2 linked regions of the Homo sapiens genome follow. The protein of the gene in region 2 interacts with the protein of the main gene of each other region in a pairwise test. Each region holds a gene or a part of one and is shown on either strand. Other genes may lie near its edges.

Region 1 (3,747 bases), on a different chromosome or scaffold from region 2:
GACCCATTTTGAAAAAGAGGAATTCTAGTTTCTATGGCTTGCTCTGGGGAAGAAAGGGGAGCAGGAGAAAGAAAGGCAGGAGAAGGTCAGAAAGATCTTCTGACTCTCTTTTCTTCAGTTCCAAGTATTCAACATGCCAAAGTGCCACACTTTGGGGTCTCATTTTCTGAGGCCCAATAATCATTACATTTCTTTTCTTTCTTTTTTTTTTTTTTTTAAGATGGAGTCTTGTTCTTGTTGCCCAGGCTGGAGTGCAGAGGTGTGATCTCAGCTCACTAAAACTTCCACCTTCCGGTTTCAAGCGATTCTCCTGCCTCAGGCTCCTGAGTAGCTGGGATTACAGGCGCCCGCCACCACGCCCAACTAATTTTTGTATTTTTAATAGAGACGGGGTTTCACTTTGGTGGCCAGGCTGGTCTCGAACTCCTGAACTTGTGATCCGCCCTCCTTCGCCTTCCAAAGTGCTGGGATTTCAGGCGTGAGCCGCCGCACCTGGCCTAATCATTACATTTCTTTGAAGTCTTTCCTTAAAGCTCTTCCACCCTCATTTTCAGAATACTTATATAGCAGATCTGTGGTTTTGGTCTGCCTAGCGTTTTCTCCTTCTGGTAAGAGAACACCTCTTCTCCCTTTGGCATCTCCAGTCCGTGTTCGTCATGTGACTTCACTGGCTCTTCCTTAGGGATGGGTTATGAAATCAAACTTGTCAGTTGGGATCCTTTATATCGGGACCCACACAGATGAGCCAAGATGTTCTCTCTCAGGATTCCTTGGGCATGCTCTGCCCCAGGGAGTTCTGATAGGAAGGCTTTATTGACCACAGCTGAAGTGCTGTTACAGAAAAGCCTAGACTTAGGAGCAAATAAACTCAGCTCTCATCTCGGTTATCTGGTGGTTGGGCTGAGAGGAGAAAGGTGCTCCTCAAGCTTGGCTTCTCCAGCTTCACCGAAGCCAGGGATCCACAGGAGAGCGCCCGTGTTGACAGCGTGAGCGGCGACCCGGTGTCGGCCTGGCGTCCCGAGCCTGTGCACTGGGCCGTTTTCTTTTTCTTTTCTTTTTTTTTTTTTTTTTTTTTGAGACGGAGTCTTGCTCTGTTACCCAGGCTGGAGTGCAGTGGTGCGATCTCGGCTCACTGCAACCTCCGCCTCCCGGGTTCAAGAGATTCTCCTGCCTCAGCCTCCCGAGTAGCTGGGACTACAGGCACCCGCCATCATGCTCGGCTAATTTTTGTATTTTTGTAGAGTCGGGGTTTCACCAATTTGGCCAGGCTGGTCTTGAACTCCTGACCTCAGGTGATCCGCCCGCCTCGGCCTCCCAAAGTGCTGGGGCTACAGGCGTGAGCCACCACGTACGGCCAGCACCGGGCATTTTTCTTACTTTAGCCATCCCGTGTTTGAGGTTGCTGTCTGGGCTCTGCTCCTACCCGAGGGCACCCCTGGAGGAAATTCTCGAGGTGACCTGGACAGGGCGGGCTGGGCGAGGACGCTCCCGGGGCCTGGAGGCGGAGTCGGGGGCGGGCGCGCGCAGTCATCTGACTCGGTGACTCACCCGCGGCCGCGCTTCCTCTGATCCGGGCCGGGCGGGAAGTCGGGTCCCGAGGCTCCGGCTCGGCAGACCGGGCGGAAAGCAGCCGAGCGGCCATGGAGCTGTGCGGGCTGGGGCTGCCCCGGCCGCCCATGCTGCTGGCGCTGCTGTTGGCGACACTGCTGGCGGCGATGTTGGCGCTGCTGACTCAGGTGGCGCTGGTGGTGCAGGTGGCGGAGGCGGCTCGGGCCCCGAGCGTCTCGGCCAAGCCGGGGCCGGCGCTGTGGCCCCTGCCGCTCTTGGTGAAGATGACCCCGAACCTGCTGCATCTCGCCCCGGAGAACTTCTACATCAGCCACAGCCCCAATTCCACGGCGGGCCCCTCCTGCACCCTGCTGGAGGAAGCGTTTCGACGGTGAGCGCTCCCGGCCCGGCCGGGAGTTGTCCTGGGGGAGGGGAGAGGCGGACCACCCCGGAGCGCTGTGCAGACCCTCACCACCCCACTGCGCAGACGAGAAACCGCCTGGGAGCTGGCAGGCGATCTGCCCAGCGCCACATGGACTGAACCCACGCTCTTGCCCCCACCCTCCTACTGCTTCTTAAGGGACACCTTGGGTGCTCAGGAACCCTGGTTTGAGAGCCGGATAGTAAGTGGAAGAGGGAGTTTGCTCTGAGGCCTTGTTGGGCAAATGGCATGGACGGAGGGGACACCGGAGCTGGGGAGGAAAGTGACAGCTCCTTATTTGAAGGACGTGCAAAGGGATAAGTTACCCGAAGGGCTTAGACAAGCTCTCTTGAGGGACCAGGAATCCCCCAAAGCTGACTGTCATTTATAGGCCAGTTTCGCCCCCTCACCTCTCCTCACATCTCCTGGTAACAGCTCAAATGGCAGAAGTCCTCAGTTTCGAGCACTGCCTAAAACTGCCCTCTCTCCTAAAATCTCTTCCATATAAAATGTGACATGTTTGCATCTGACTACGTTTCTGCGGTCAGTGGTTAGGCAGTATCCAACTTTGTTTCTCAACACCGATCATGTTGCCTGCTCTCCCTGCTTCCTCTTTTACAGACCCCTAGATAGCGCCTCTGTCTCTCTCACCCTTTGGCTGCAGACAGGGTGAGTTTTGTCATGGGAGTCAGCCAATCACACCATAGACAAGGCAGGTTCCCCTGGGGAGATGTTTGAAGACGCCACACACTGTCCCCTCAGTGTGAGACCTGTGTAGGTGGGACTGTCCTGAAGGCGTATCGTGCCCTGCAGAATTGTAATTTGGTGCTAACTGTACTGCCTCCTGGCATTCCCCAAGCCTGTCGCTGTACCCAGTGGATACTATAGAGCTTAAGTGTGCTTGCAGGACCCTGAACAGGTGGGGAGGGAATGTCAAACTAACTGAATAATGTGTTCTGACCCCAGATAGGACAGGTGCCTAGGCTCAAGCTGCAGAGGCCCAAGATGCTGATGGCAGAAATGGTTCATTCTCTACAATCAGAAGGCTCATGGTTTCCTTCTGTTTTGTACAACTAAATGGGTATTATCAGTCTCTATTTTAGACACACACACTAATGAGCCTTTGGTATCCAATCTGCTAAGGCCAGAGTGGGGTTAAGATGTAGAACCAAAGTGTTTGGTTGCATTGGGATATTCAGAAAGATTGCATGGAAAGTACATGAAGGTTGTCTCAGAAGATCATGACTAGGGTTGGAAATCTTTTTAAAAACAAACACGCTTATTATGTTTGCCTTGGAGTTCAGCTTGTAGAATTGGATTTTCCTTCTGTGTCATACTGCTAAGTAAAACAAGGACTTGGTAATATGCTGAACTGACTGTGACAAGAAAGCATGGGTGATGTAAGTTAACAATAGGTAGATAACCAGGACTTAAATCAGCTGAGATGGTTCGAAGGCAAGGCTTGGTATTTCAAGGCATGTGCGGGTGATTACCTGAAGAGTTTGCCTAACTCATGGCCTCTGAGTGAAGCAGCCATTAATTATGCCTGGTATTATTAGGAAGCAGGTCATAAAATGTGTTGGCCCTTATGGCTAAGACTTGAAGGCATGCATGTGAGCATTCTAGGAACTCAGAAGGAGCAGCAGGTATCTCAGAGTAAAAGCACAGTGGAGTTGGAAAGATTTGGAAATATGGGAGTGTTCACAAAGTGCGACGTGGTCAGGAACACACAGTCTAGGCCCCAGATTGTTCAGCATCACATAGCCCCTGTCTCTGAA
Region 2 (3,747 bases):
GAACTGCTAGATTTAAATTTAAAAGCATCCATTTGCCCTACCATACAACTCCATAAGGAAAAAAAATTAATCTCCCATTCCCCATCAAGGAAATCCTTTGTAAGAAACTGAAAATACAGTTGCATATGAAATTTTTTTTAAAAAAGGACATACTTCACTATACCACTGTGCTAAATATTTAGCTATGATCACAATCCATGGAGTATGACTGTGGTCCTAAAAATGAGAGACAAATAAAAGAAAATATCAGTATTATGAATTCTTCACTGTACCATCTCGTTTTCAACAAATTCAACAATATTTATGATCTCCTAATATATGCAGAGTAGTGAATAGACGAAAATGAACTGAGTTAATAAAAACTGCTTTACAAATTTTTCTAGAGGCAGATACCTAGTATGTCACATATATACTATGATTGTCCCCATTATACCAGCAAAACAGTCTCAGAGACTGCCACCCAAAAACACAGCTCAAATCTCAATTTCAGACACCAATCCTAAGTAAGAAAGGAGGATCTTTTCTGTTTTCTGATGAACCAAATAAGCAACTGCATGTTAATTAATATGGAAGTGGGAAAAAATACATATACGCCTTATAGTGTTATGTCATTATTTCTATTTGTTTAGAAAAAGTCCATAAAGAGAACTTCTTGGAATTTTTTTATTTCTGTTTTTTGTTTTAAAATTTTTTACTTTCAATTTTTGTGGGTACTTAGGTGTATATATTTATGGGGTACATGCTTTGATACAGGCATGCAATGTGAAATAAGCACATCATGGAGAATGGGGTATCTGTATAGCATTTATCCCCTCAAGCGTTTATCCTTTATGTTACAAATAATCCAATTAAACTCTTTTAATTATTTTAAAATGTATAACTGAGTTGTTATTACTAACTATAGTCACCTTGTTGTGCTTTCAAGGAGTAAATCTTATTTATTCTTTCTAATTTTTTTTTGGTACCCATTAACCATCCCCATCTCCCCACCTGGAATAGGTTAATGTCCAATTTCTTGACCTGGGTAGTGATTACACAGATGTTCAGTATATGTACTTTTCTTCAGTAAAAAAGTTTTTTAATTTTGGAGAAAAATTAATATGTTGAAAACAAGGTAAAATACTGTTATTGGGTAATCGGGATGACAGGAATATGGAAGTTTATAGGATTTTCTCACTTTAGTGTAATTCAAAAACCTTAGGTTAAAAAAATGTTTTAAGTCTATCTGTAAATGTAAGGTCACACACACTACCAACCTTTTTTTCCATATGATCCAAATCATAGGACTGAAAATGTTCTCTCAGTTCAGGAAATGGCTTATCTAGTCGTAGATCCTCTAATGCATTATCTGGATGAGATTCTATTACTGTGAAACAAAGAATTCAAAAGGATAAATTTAACACTTAAAAAAAAAAAAGAGAGAGATGGGGTCTTGCTGTATTACCCAGGCTGAAGTACAGTGGCACAATCACAGCTCACTGCTGAAACTCCTGGGCTGAAGGGATCCTCCCACCTCAGCCTCCTGAGAAGGTGGGACTACAGTCTCGTGTCACTGTGCCCAGCTAATTTTTTTGTAGGGATAGGGTCTCACTATGTCACCCAGGCTAGTCTCAAACTCCTGGATTCAAGGGCTCCTCCTGCCTCGGCCTCCCAAAGTCCTTGCATTACAGGTGTGAGCCACCGTGCCCAGCTCAAAAGATAAACTTAATTCTTTGGCAATACTGATGACAATACATTGAATTATAGAAACTTAGGAAATCTTTAATTTTTAAATGGACACAGGGCCCACAGGTTTTTTCACTGTTTTATTAAGGTACGATTTACATATAGTAAAATGCAGAAATCTTAAGTCAACTATAAAGTTTTAGTAAAAGTAAAACCAAGATTCCTTTAGAACACAATTTGTTCTAACTGGAAAAGCTCAACATTGACAAACCCTAGGTACAGATAGCAACTAACAACCTATCCTTCCTCCTCTTGTGGTCTTCAATAGACAGCATCACCATCTACCTAGACTTCTTCTCCAGAAACCTGATGGGCATCCTTCACTTCTTGCTTCCTTGGCCCCAACATCAGTAACTCCCCACTTCCTAATCTCACTCTGTACACTGCTCTCCACATGAGAGAGGACAGGAGAGTGTATAATTTCAGTGAGTGCTTAGAGGTAGGCCCAGTTCTGTCACTTGCTAACTATGTGACCTTAGGCAAATAATTTAATCTCTCATTGCCTCAGCATCATCTATAAAAAGCAGATATTAAAGTATCTACAGATTGTATATCTCTCTTATCCAAAATGCTTGGGACCATAAGTGTTTTGGATTTTGTTGAGTTTTTGGTATATTTGCAAATACATATTAGATGAGCTCTCTAACCCAAAAATCTGAAGTAAGAAATGTTCCAATGAGTGTTTCCTTTGAATATTATGTCAGTTCTCAAAAAGTTTTGCATTTTGGAGCATTTCTGATTTTGGATTTTTGGATTAAGGATACTCAATCTGTACCTTATAAAGGTTTTGGAAAGAGTAAATGAAATAATTCTTATAAAGGCAGGCACACAACTAGTAATGCTGAACCTTCATTATTATCTACCCTCTCTTCTTCTCTTCCCTAAATTAGGAAAAAGAACACACTCTCTCTTACTTAGGCCACTGGAAATTTCTAACAGCAATCACTGCCTCCAATCTTTGCCCCTTTAAATCCATTTACTTTCCACTCAACTTCAAAGTGACCCATTTAAAATAAAATGTTTACATGGTCACTCTCCCACTTTCAACTCTTTTGTTCCCTCCCATCAGTTGACACCACTTTCAACTCTTAAATGGCTCACCACCAGCAGCCAGAGCTTATCCTGACAAGCACTCCCTAACTGCCCACACAGATATTACTCCTCAGTGATGCTACCAATGCCAATGGCTATCACCACATTAGCAGAGTGCTTGGCTCATAGTAAAAATGTTTTCTTGAGTCAATAAAGAGCACTGTTTTGAATACTGGATGAAAATTTTATGATCATCTAAGATTAAAATTTTATAAGTAAAGGGCTTATATAAACCCTCAGCTGATGGAGGTCTGCCTATAAACGACTTTGGTCTCTTACAACAGTTTCCTTGGGAACAGTAGTTATGTAAATGTCTTTGTTGTGTGAAATTGCACCTGAATTGAGAGAACCTAAAGCCTGCATGAGAATGAAATAAAAGATTGGACGGACCTGGTGCAGTGGCTCACACCTGTAATCCCAGCACCTTGGGAGGCCAAGGCGGGTGGATCACCTGAGGTCAGGAGTTCGAGACCAGCCTGGCCAACATGGTGAAATCCTGTCTCTACTAAAAATGCAAAAAATTAGCTGGGCGGCCGGGTGCGGTGGCTCACGCCTGTAATCCCAGCACTTTGGGAGGCCAAGGCGGGCAGATCACGAGGTCAGGAGATTGAGACCATCCTGGCTAACATGGTGAAACCCCATCTCTACTAAAAATACAAAAAATTAGCCGGGCACGGTGGCGGGCGCCTGTAGTCCCAGCTACTCGGGAGGCTGAGGCAGGAGAATGGCGTGAACCCGGGAGGTGGAGGTAGCAGTGAGCCAAGATCGCGCCACTGCAGTCCAGCCTGAGCAAAAGAGAGAGACTCCGTCTCAAAAAAAAAAAAAAAAAAATTAGCTGGGCATGGTGGCGGGTGCCTGTAATCCCAGATACTTGGGAGGCTGAGGCAGGAGAATCAGTTGAACCCGGGAGGTGGAGGTTGCAGTGAGCCA

Evidence for each region. Proteins that work in one complex are often made in the same cells at the same time.
Region 1: the proteins of NAE1 (region 2) and HEXB interact in binary tests that used the Homo sapiens proteins (3 or more experiments, as listed by UniProt).

The regions. Positions count from the first base shown.
Region 1 is NC_000005.10:74,683,621-74,687,367, forward strand, and holds the start of HEXB (beta-hexosaminidase subunit beta isoform 1 preproprotein), read left to right. Parts: upstream 1-1,612; 5' UTR 1,613-1,640; coding exon 1,641-1,939; intron 1,940-3,747. UniProt on the Homo sapiens protein: Hydrolyzes the non-reducing end N-acetyl-D-hexosamine and/or sulfated N-acetyl-D-hexosamine of glycoconjugates, such as the oligosaccharide moieties from proteins and neutral glycolipids, or from certain mucopolysaccharides.
Region 2 is NC_000016.10:66,817,272-66,821,018, forward strand, and holds part of NAE1 (NEDD8-activating enzyme E1 regulatory subunit), read right to left. Parts: intron 1,367-3,747; coding exon 1,257-1,366; intron 217-1,256; coding exon 154-216; intron 1-153. UniProt on the Homo sapiens protein: Regulatory subunit of the dimeric UBA3-NAE1 E1 enzyme. E1 activates NEDD8 by first adenylating its C-terminal glycine residue with ATP, thereafter linking this residue to the side chain of the catalytic cysteine, yielding a NEDD8-UBA3 thioester and free AMP.